Regions from separate parts of the Homo sapiens genome. Here region 2 is linked to region 1. Evidence: fine-mapped expression QTL. A gene starts in region 1. The other region holds a variant in brackets. All regions are shown on one strand. Distances are from middle to middle.

What was found. PIP is the estimated chance that this variant, and not a neighbour inherited with it, causes the effect.
Region 2: its variant is fine-mapped to the expression of POLA2 in whole blood (INTERVAL, PIP 0.93).

The regions. Positions count from the first base shown.
Region 1 is chr11:65,259,308-65,264,674 of GRCh38, forward strand. POLA2 (DNA polymerase alpha 2, accessory subunit) reads left to right here and starts at 2,655. Exons shown (of 18, transcript NM_002689.4): 1 at 2,655-3,064. The coding sequence starts at 2,986. RefSeq lists enhancers at 1,793-2,680, 2,675-2,924, 2,681-3,566.
Region 2 is chr11:65,293,991-65,299,357 of GRCh38, forward strand. POLA2 (DNA polymerase alpha 2, accessory subunit) reads left to right here. Exons shown (of 18, transcript NM_002689.4): 14 at 163-271; 15 at 556-662; 16 at 1,550-1,609; 17 at 1,874-2,000; 18 at 3,130-4,695. The coding sequence ends at 3,279. LOC105369344 (a long non-coding RNA gene) reads right to left here. Exons shown (of 3, transcript XR_007062727.1): 3 at 1-1,634. Among named protein-coding and RNA genes, the nearest start is that of CDC42EP2, 18 kb to the right of the region's middle. The variant A/T (reference allele first, on the strand shown) is at 2,092.

The DNA.
Region 1 (5,367 bases):
TAAACTTCTATTTTGTCTCAGCTACTATTGTTTTAGGACTTGGCTATGTCACAGATCTAAAACCCACTTGATTTACTCCTGCAATCAAAATATATTGACACAGAAAAGACAACAAATAAATCAGTGGAATAAAACAGAAAATCCAGAAACAGATTCAAGTGTTTATGGGGACTTGATACATGAAAGATCACAATTCAAGTCAGTTGAAGAATGTTTTATTTACTAAGTATAACTGCTGACATGCTGGCTGTTTGTCAGGAATAAAACAAAGCTAAATCCTTCCTCACATCACAAATAAGATTAATTCTAGGTGGATTAGCGAACTAAAGGCAAAACGTAAGTAAAATTAATAAAACAAAAATTGGAAGAATATTTGCATAAGCTTAGGTCGAGGAGACCTTATTAAACAAAGCAGGAAACCTAAAACCCATACAGGAAAAGAATTGCACAGTGTTGTGTGGTAGAAAAAAAAACCCACAAAGTTAAAAGACAGGTTGGGAAAAATATGTATGTAACACATTTGATATCCATTGGTTATTGCTGATGGTGGGAAACTGCAAACATTTTCCGTAAAGAGCCAGAGAGTAAATATTTGAGGCTTAAGGGTGTGAACCCCAAAAGAGGTTCATGATGGATCCGGAGTGGCTAACTAGGCCTAAATTCAAAATACAGCCAAGCAGCCATTGGCTGACTAGAGGTCACACATACTTCGGTTTTTGTTTGCTTTTTTTTTTTTTTAGGCGGAGTCTCGCTCTGTTGCCCAGACTGTAGTGCAGTGGCACAATCTCGACTTACTGCAAGCTCCGCCTCCCGGGTTCACGCCGTTCTCCTGCCTCAGCCTCCCAAGTAGCTGGGACTACAGGTGCTCGCCACCACGCTAGGCTTTCTTTTTTTTTTCTTTTTTTTTTTTTTAGTAGAGACGGGGTTTCACCGTGTTAGCCAGGATGGTCTCGATCTCCTGACCTCGTGATCCTCCCGCCTCGACCTCCCAAAGTGCTGGGATTACAGGCGTGAGCCACCGCACCCGGCCTTTGTTTGCTTTTTGAGACACGATCTTGCTCTGTCGCCCAGGCTGGAGTGCAGTGAGGCGATCATGACTCACTTCAGCCTCGACCTCCCGAACTCAAGCGCTCCTCCAGCCTCAGCCCCCAGAGTGGCTGAGATCACAAGAACCCGCCACCACCGCCCGCTAATTTTTTGTAGAGAAGGGGTTTCGCCACGTTGCCCAGGCCGATCTTGAACTCCTGGGCTCAAGTTAAGGGAGGAGACCACCCCTCATATTGTCTTACGCCCAATTTCTGCCTCCAAAGAAAGAAAAAGTAAAACTAAAAGGCAGAAATGAAATCCACAAGCAGACAGCCCGGCCTCACACCCTAGGCTTGGTAAAGATGGACCCCTGACCTAATCAGTTATGTTATCTATAGATTACAGACACTGTATAGAAAAGCACTGTGAAAATCCCTATCCTGTTTTGTTCTGATCTAATTACTGGTGCATGCAGCCCCCAGTCACGTACCCCCTGCTTGTTCAATTGATCACGACCCTCTCAGGCGCACCCCCTTAGAGTTGTGAGCCCTTAAAAGGGACAGGAATTGCTCATTCGGGGAGCTCGGCTGGTGAGACAGGAGTCTTGCCGATGACCCCAGCCGAATAAACCCCTTCCTTCTTTAACTCGGGTGTCTGAGGAGTTTTGTCTGTGGCTCGTCCTGCTACAAAGTGATCCGCCTGCCTCGGCCTCCCAAATGCTGGGATTACAGGCGTGAGTGACCGCACCTGGCCTGGGATGGACATTTTAAAGGTTCCTGATACATATTGCTAAATTGTTTTCTCGAAACGCTCTATACCATCCCACCAGCATTGTATGACGCCTACGGTTGAGATTTTTGGCTCAAAGAATTACGGTGTATTTCAAGGGGAGAACCCTCTTCTCATCTTACCCCTAAACTCTATCCTTGAGTGACCTACCTTCACTCCCAAGCCTCCAGTCACCCACTGGGAATCTCTACCTGGAAATCCCAGAGGCACTCAAACTTAACGTGTCCAAAACTAAATTATCCGTCACCTTCCCACCTCATATCCCCCCAAATGCCCCAGATTCAGAAAACATACCCATCACTGTGGCTGGCACCACGGTGATAAGCACGATAATAACCATGGCAACCAGATTCCCTACTGAAGCCATTCTTTTAGGATGAACCAAGGGCACAACAGGCAGAGATGACAAGGGGAATGGAGAAGGGGGTACAGTAAGTTTTAGATAGTCGAAGGCACGCGCACGACAACGCCTGCGCACCACGGAACAGGGCAAAAGGGTGACAAACATGCGCCACTGAGTTTTATCGAGCAGCCGATGCCCAGAAAACAGGCATCCGCACACAGACTCAGTTTCCTTGTAGGCAACTCCCGGGCGTTGCGAGTCACAACCGGCATTCTCGCGCCGTGAGAGAGAACTGCGCAGCTGCTGACTGGCGGGCCGCCAGGCGCGTGCGTAGAGACGCCCACACGCCCGCTGATGCGCACGCGCCCTGGGCCGCGCGTGCGCGCGTGGGGTTCCGGAATGAGCCGGGGAAAGCAAGGGGAAGGTTTGGGGTTGGCTCCCGGTTTCGCGCATGCGTGCACTGCACAAACCATTTGGCGGGTTTTTCCGGCCACTCAGTTCTGCCACCGTCACTGAGAAGCTCAGCGGTAGCTTTTGGGAAGCAGGACGTTCTCACCAGGAGAGCGTCCTCTCGAGATTTCTGCTCCCTCCATTCAGGGCGTTTGGGAGCCACCCCTTCATTTTTTAAAAAAAGTATTTCTCTGTGACCGACGGCCGGGGCCTTCTGACGGTCTGAGGTCTTGCTTGGGCCAGTCACCTCCTGTCACGGTCCGCGGAGGGGGGAAGGATAAGAGGGCGAGGAGCTCATCGCTCGCCACCCCCGTGGGCTTCTTGGGCGCAGGTCGGAGCTGGGTGGGCCGGCTCCCCGGCCCCTGGCTTGGGCGACCATGTCCGCATCCGCCCAGCAGCTGGCGGAGGAGCTGCAGATCTTCGGCCTAGACTGCGAGGAGGCTCTAATTGAGAAATGTGAGTCCCGCACCCCTCCCGCCCTGCAGCCGTGCTCCACGCTCTCGCCCGAGTTCCTCGGCGCCTAGAACCGAAAGTGGAGCGCTTCCAATTTCCACTTCCCCTGGAGCAGAGTTCTCGGTGGCTGTGAGATGAAGAATCAAACTTGAGTTTTGAGATTTAGGATGTGGGGACTTTGAAATGCCCACCGGGTACCGCTTGGATGCCAAATCAAAAATAGGAATATGCAGCACGATTTTAAACCAACTCGAAGTTCCCGAAAGGCGGAATTGGGATGTGCTAGATAGAGACTAGGCACTGGTGGCACCTGAGTTTGGAAATTGTTGAAGCCCCGGTAACAAAGCAACAGATGTGGGGGTTTTGAAATGTAGCTTTTTATTCTTGGCTCCTCCCTTTCCAGCCTACACCTTAAACCTCTGCTGATCCATCAGTTATTTTATCATAGCTGTTGGTGGTCTGTGCAAATATGAATCCCTTGAGGTAGGTTCCTAAAATTGAATTTGAGCTGTGGAAGGAGCTTTAGGGAGCTTTACAGATGGAGAAACAGACAAGGAAAGCTAATTGCCTGAGCTGTCTGTGAAGCCAGGTGTCCTGCCTTGGAGTCCCGTGCTGCATCATACGGGTCCATCGTGTTGGTCAAGCTGTAGAGCAGTGTAAGGAGTCATTTGAAGCAAAGCCTGGGAGATGTGGAAGTTCTAGAATCGGTATGAATGTGCACCTGCCTTAACCACTCAACACTTTGAACTTCTTATATACAAAAAGATAACGAAACGTTAATTTATGGTGAGAAATTCCTTTCAGAAACCAGAATACTTCAAGTCTTCATGCCCAGTGCCTTCTCTCTCTCTCTTTTTTTTTTTTTTTTTTTTTGACAGTCTTGTTTTATCACCCAGGCTGGAGTGCAGTGGTGCAATCTCGGCTCACTTCAGCCTCCGCCTCCCAGGTTCAAGCGATTCTCCTGCCTCAGCCTCCCAAGTAGCTGGGATTACAGGCGCCCGCCACCAGGCCCGACTAATTTTTTTTTGTACTTTTAGTAGAGAAGGGGTTTCACCATGTAGGCCAGACTGCTCTCGAACTCCTGACCTCAAGTGATCCACCCACCTTGGCCTTCCAAAGTGCTGGGATTACAGGCATAAGCCAGCAGGCTCGGTCCTTCTCTTTTTAAAAGAAGACTAGCCAGGTGTGGTGGCTCACGCCTGTAATCCCAGCATTTTGGGAGGCCAAGGCAGGTGGATAATCTGAAGTCGAGAATTTGAGACCAGCCTGACCAACATGGAGAAACCCTGTCTCTACTAAAAATACAAAATTAGTCGGGCGTGGTGGCGCATGCCTGTAATCCCAGCTACTCAGGAGGCTGAGGCGGAAGAATCGCTTGAACATGAGAGGCAGAGGTTGTGGTGAGCCGAGATCACACCATTGCACTCTAGCCTGGGCAACAGGAGCGAGACTCTGTCTCAAAAAAAAAAAAAAGACTTAAGTGGAAAACCTGATCATAGTCAGAAATGTATGTGGTAAGCATGAAATCAGCATGAGAGAAATTAGTTATGTGAACCAGATTTGTAAAGGCTTCAGGCCAAGATGCCAGTTGCTTTCATCTCATGGCAATGGCTTTGGAATTGTGGACTTTGGATCATCAGTAACTTCAGTGGCACCTTAATGTTTCCTGACAGTCAACCGTATTTCCCTGTTTTTTTTGTTGTTGTTTGTTTTGTTTTTTGAGATGGAGTTTCTCATTGCCCAGGCTGGAGTGCAATGGTGCAATCTTGGCTCACTGCAACCTCTGCCTCCCGAGTTCAAGCGGTTCTCCTGCCTCAGCCTCCCGAGTAGCTGGGATTACAGGCTCCCGCCACCACGCCCGGCTAATTTTTTGTATTTTTAGTAGAGATGGGGTTTCGCCATGTTGGGCAGGCTGATCTCGAACCCCTGACCTCCAGTGATCCTCCCACCTCGGCCTCCCAAAGTGCTGGGATTATAGGTGTGAGCCACCACACCTGTTCTACTTTTTGTATTTTCAGTAGAGACAAGGTTTCACCATGTTGGCCAGGCTGGTCTTCAACTCCTGACCTCAGGTGATCCGCCCACCCTGGCCTCCCAAAGTGCTGGGATTACACTGCGCCAGGCCCCTGGTCTCTTTACTCTGAGTCTTCCAGATGATTGTTTTCCACCTTCTCCTGTAACATCCTTCTGTCCCACCCTCACTCTCAGCTGACAAATTTCTATTATTTGCTGAAAAATGTAGAAGCATTAGAAAACTTCGATCAGCTACCACCATTATGTCTCACTGACCCATATCTGTGGCATAT
Region 2 (5,367 bases), 35 kb after region 1:
CATGGGAAACAGCGTCTCTGTTCATAACAGAGTGCAGTTCTGAGCTGCCTCCCTCGGGGTGGGCTCTGCCTCCAGCCTGAGGCATCCCACCTGTTGCGCAGCTGTTCTAACTCAACTGCACTCACTTTTCTCACTCTTCTGTTTGTTCTTTTGCCATACTAGCTCCGGCTCCCACCTTGTCTTTGTCCCGTCATTGAGAGATGTGCACCATGAGCCTGTGTACCCCCAGCCGCCTTTCAGCTACTCCGATCTGTCTCGAGAGGACAAAAAGGTAGCAGCACCCACTCCTTGACCAGCAGGCAGCCAGAATCCAGCATGCCTCTGCCACTAGCTCTGGCCCTGAAGGGGAGGGTGGAGAGGCCTCTTTAGGGTGTGCGTACAGCCTGAATCTTAAACTCCTTTTTTTAAACAGGCAAATGTGTCCAAAAGCTTGATGTATGTTGGTTTGGTCCCCCTTTCCGTGGTCTCCCCAGCCCTCAGACAACCCCCACTTTCATGGGAAGATGTTTCTAGCTTTGGCATACAAATGTTTGTTTCAATCCGTTCTCATTTTAGCAAGTACAGTTTGTGTCCGAGCCCTGCAGCCTCTCCATAAACGGAGTGATCTTCGGCTTGACATCCACAGATCTGCTTTTCCACCTGGGGGCCGAGGAGATCAGTAGGTAAGAAGTGTGTTCCAGGCCCCAAGCAGGATGACTGGCTTTCTGGTCCCAGCCCTTTCTGCAGCCAAGAAAATCAAGGGGCTGCTTAACGGTCTTGACCAGAGAGAGCTGAAAGCAGCAAGCTGTGCCAGACCCTCTAGCCATCTGAGTTTCTCTGTACCCAAGGGGAGGGGTTGGATGCATTAGTTTCTGTTACCACCTCTCTAAACTGCGTTTGAGACCCCAAAGAACCACGTCCATTCTGTCTTTGCACTTAAAGGCATCAAAATTCATCTACATTTTCTTTTCTGCTCCCCTTTTTTTTCATTTCCCAAATTTGTGACCTGAAAACAAATGTGGACATCCTGTTTGTGGAGGATAAACTGGGAATTTTCTCTGAAGGATTTTCTTCACTACCAGTACAACATCCAGCTCTGCAGAGAATCAGGCCCTGACAAATTTGTTGAGTTGAAGTTGGGCAGCTCCGTTCTGCCGTCATCCTTGATGGGAAGGGGCATGTGAAGCGACTCGCGTGTGAAGCGAGACGGGTGCGGCTCCTTGGCTGAGGTTTGAGATTCAGGTCAGCCTGGCTACACACCCGCCTCATGATGGTGCCAACTTTGCATCCTCTTGCACAGTACGGTGCTGGCTAATGGCCTTCCTTGATCTTGATTATGAGGGATTCCTGTGCTTTCCCTTCTCAACCTGGTGTCCTGCGTCCCTCCTCATGTGGGGACAGACTGAGCTCCTTGTGGGTGGGTCTTTAAACTTCCCCAGAGGCATCCTCCTCTTGTTGCTGTGCCTTGGCCATTTACCTTCTCTCTGGTTTATTAAATTCTCCAGTCCTCCCTGAAGAGAAATGGGCTGAAAAACAGAGTTCTGTTTTCATGCTTTCTTTTCTTTCCCAGTTCTTCCGGAACTTCAGACAGATTCAGCCGAATACTCAAGCACATCTTGACCCAGAGGAGGTGAGCTTGCCGCTGGGACCCCTGACTGTGGAGAGAGTGCCTTGGGGTCATGGAGCTATGACAAGCATGACTGTAAGAGCCTTCACCAGGCTACCAGCAGGGAACTTTACCCTGTGATGACAAGCCTGCATTCTGCCCCACACACACAGAGAAAAAGTCGGTCTGTGGATGCCAGCAGCACGAAAGCCAGTACCTAGGGGGACTCTGTCTGAGAAGGGGGCCCCCCGGTCAGCTAGTGCTGACAATTTCTCTCTGTCTCTGTAGCTACTACCCACTCTACCCGCCCCAAGAAGACATGGCCATTGACTATGAGTCGTTCTATGTTTACGCACAGCTGCCTGTCACCCCAGATGTCCTCATCATCCCGTCAGAGCTGAGGTACTTCGTGAAGGTAGGTTTGAACTCTGCTTTTTCCCAGAAACACCAGAACCCAGTCTTTGACTTTCCCTTCTAGACCACCCGGCACTCACCCCTCATGGGTC[A/T]GCTGATGGGGATGGGGCCTCTAGCACCCTGCCCTGTGGCCTTGTTTCTTTGGGGAGGTGGTGGGACCAGAAAACAAACAACTCTGTCAGTAAAATGCTTGAGTAAACAGTGTCCTCTCCTCCCTCCCCAAGAGAACGAGAGCCCAGATGACTAGGAAGGCCCTCAAATGAGGGCTTTCACCAGGCCACATAGAGGTGACCTGGGGAAGATTTCATATGTACACTTGCCTGTCCTCTGCCTCCCAAATTCTGATATGACCTCCAAGTGGGCTCAGCTGGGAATACCTTGAAGAAGCTATTGGGTCATTTTGATCTCTGCCACCCTTTAGCCCTGCCTGCCTTGGAGTTAGGTCCCTTACAAGGAATCTGCCTAGACCAGTCCCCCTCTTGCCAAACAAGAGTTAGTTCAATCTCAAGAGGTTAAAAAAAAGTTTTTCACATGAGAAAGCAGTAAACAGCTAGATCAGGTTTGTCTCCAAGTTTAGGAGCTGATTGTCATTCTGCCAAGTCACCTCATTCTTCTGTTTGAAAGACTTAAAAGGAATTCAAAGCTTTCTAGTGACAAGTTAACATATGTGACTGAGGCCGGGCGCAGTGGTTGACAATTGTAATCCCAGCACTTTGGGAGGCCGAGGTGGGTGGATCACCTGAGGTCAGGAGTCTGAGACCAGCCTGGCCAACATGGTAAAACCCCATCTCTACTAAAAATACAAAAATTAGCCAGGCATGGTGGTGTGGGTGCCTGTAATCCAAGCTACCTGGGAGCCTGAGGCAGGAGAATCGCTGGAACCCGGGAGGTCGAGGCTGCAGTGAGCTGAGATCTCACCACTGCACTCCAGCCTGGGCAACAGAGCGAGACTCCATCTCAAAAAAAAAAAAAAAAAAAGTGACTGAAAATGTGTCTGGTGATTTGGTTGCCTTCGTTTCCATTTTCTAAAACCCTCTTTGGGGTCCAGCCATGTGATGGCACTTCTTTTTCACATTGGTTCCCAGTTAGTTGAGGCTCTCCAAACCTGTCACCTCTCCTCTCCTCCCCAGGATGTCCTCGGCTGTGTCTGTGTGAACCCTGGGCGCCTTACCAAAGGGCAGGTGGGAGGCACCTTCGCCCGACTCTACCTTAGGAGGCCGGCAGCGGACGGGGCAGAGAGGCAGAGCCCATGCATTGCTGTGCAGGTCGTCAGGATCTGAGGCTTCTGTCCTCTGCTGTTCTCTGCTGTGTGGGCCCTTAAAGTCTTAGCCAAGAGCCAAGACATAGCCCTGTGACAAGGTGAACAGTTGGGTGGGAAAGGAGAGAGGAGCCAGCCAGGGAGGGGCAGCTGCAGTGACCAGGCCCAGCAGGGAGGACTTGTGCAGCCGGGCCTGCCTCTGAGTGGTGCCTCTCCTGGAAGGAAGCTCTTGCTTCTCAGTCCATGCTCCGTGTCCAGAAGTAAGCCAGCTGTGGATCCCGCCCACTCAGAAAAGGCGAGAAGGCTTTGTGATTTTCTACATGAATCAAACACAGAAACAACTTTTGGAGAAATTAAATTCTGAGTGTGACTTCTGAGTTTGACCTTTCTTCTATTTTCTTTTATTTATTTATTTTGTTTTTAGACGGAGTCTCGATCTGTCGCCCAGGCTGGAGTGCAGTGGTGAGATCTCGGCTCACTGCAAGCTCTGCCGCCCGGGTTCATGCCATTCTCCTGCCTCAGCCTCCTGAGTAGCTGGGACTACAGGCACCCACCACCACGCCTGGCTAATTTTTTGTATTTTTAGTGGAGATGGGGTTTCACCATGTTAGCCAGGATGGTCTCGATCTCCTGACCTTGTGATCTGTCCGCCTCAGCCTCCCAAAGTGCTGGGATTACAGGCGTGAGCCACCGCGCCCGGCCCCTTTCTTCTATTTTCTTTATCCTGGTAGTAGACAAAGAATGTTGCCTATTTGACCTATGTCCAGAGAAGGCAGAGTGTCAGTCACACTGGGTTTCTATCCAGCCCCAGTCCTGTCCAGTGGGTAACTCTCAGCCCCACTCCTCATCCCCCAAAGGCCCCAGTGACCTCTATGCTGCAGAGGTGCACTGGGTGGGCCCTAGAGCTGGGCTGCAGAGCAAGCAACTGGCTGCATGCCTGGGCCTCCCTGCGCAGTTCCTCACATGCATGCTGTGGTCCCAGCCTGACCTCTCCATCTGGAGGGGGCCGCCTCGCTGGGCTGTTCCAAAGCTGGAGTCCTGGTGGCAGCTGCTTTGCCAAGTCGCGCAGTAGCCAGGGCTTGCCTGCAGCCCAGAACACTCAGACAGGGTCAGGCCTTCCAGGGTTCACAGCACGTCCCATGCCCCTATGTCCTGGCATCTGGGGAAAAGCTGTCACTGGCCAGACGTGGAGTGGCTTCCTGCCCTAAGCTGGCAGGCTGTCCTGCCTCACATGCCAGAGCCAAGACCGGCAAACCCCAGCTGTCAGGGCAGGGAAGTGGGCAAGGGGGCAGCAAGCTGCTGGTGTCTATGCCTTGACTCCGAGATAAATAGATGACCTAACAGTGGCCAACTTTTGCCTCTCACCTTTCTGACGGTGAAATGGAATCGAGCCCCAGACCTGACCAGGGTACAGTAAAAGGTCTTCCTTTAAACACAAGGAGCAGCTGTTTTATTTCATTAGTTTTATAGGCACCTCCTCTGAGGCCAAGAATTAGAAACTCATCCCTGCGTGGGGAGTGGATTTTTCCGTTCTCCCCCAGCTCCTCCACACATGAAGCAGCCAGCTGTGTTCCACGGGGGCACCATGACTTGTCAGCCTCCGGATGTGGAATTTTGGGAGCCCAGGCAATGGTTGCCTGGATACCAGTCGTGTGACTGTTGGAAATGATCTGGGAGGGCCGGGAGGGCCGGAGCAGGCATTTAAGAGTCAGACAAAGAGAAAGCGGGATGCTAACACCAGAGCAGACAGGTCTGGCAGGCGTGCCTCTGCCACCAGACAGTTCCTTTTTGCTCTTGTCAGGAAGGTGCCAAGTGACTGCTGGCTGACCGTCCCTAGACCCCACTTCAGCTGTGTCACCAGTTTCCCCAGGCATCTGTCATCCCAGGTATTCTCAAGCAGGCTCTGGGGGCGTGTCAGTGACGGAGGGTGGGAGGGTGCCCAGGAGGTCAGGCCCGTCTGCCTCAGCCCCCTTTGGTGGCCTCTCCCTGATCTGGTCATGGCCCCTGCCCTTGAGACACCAACTAGACGGTCCTGAAGAAATAGTCCCGAGCTCTTGCCAGGATTTGCCTCCCATGCCCATGCCCTTGCCCTGCCTCTGCCCTGGCAGAA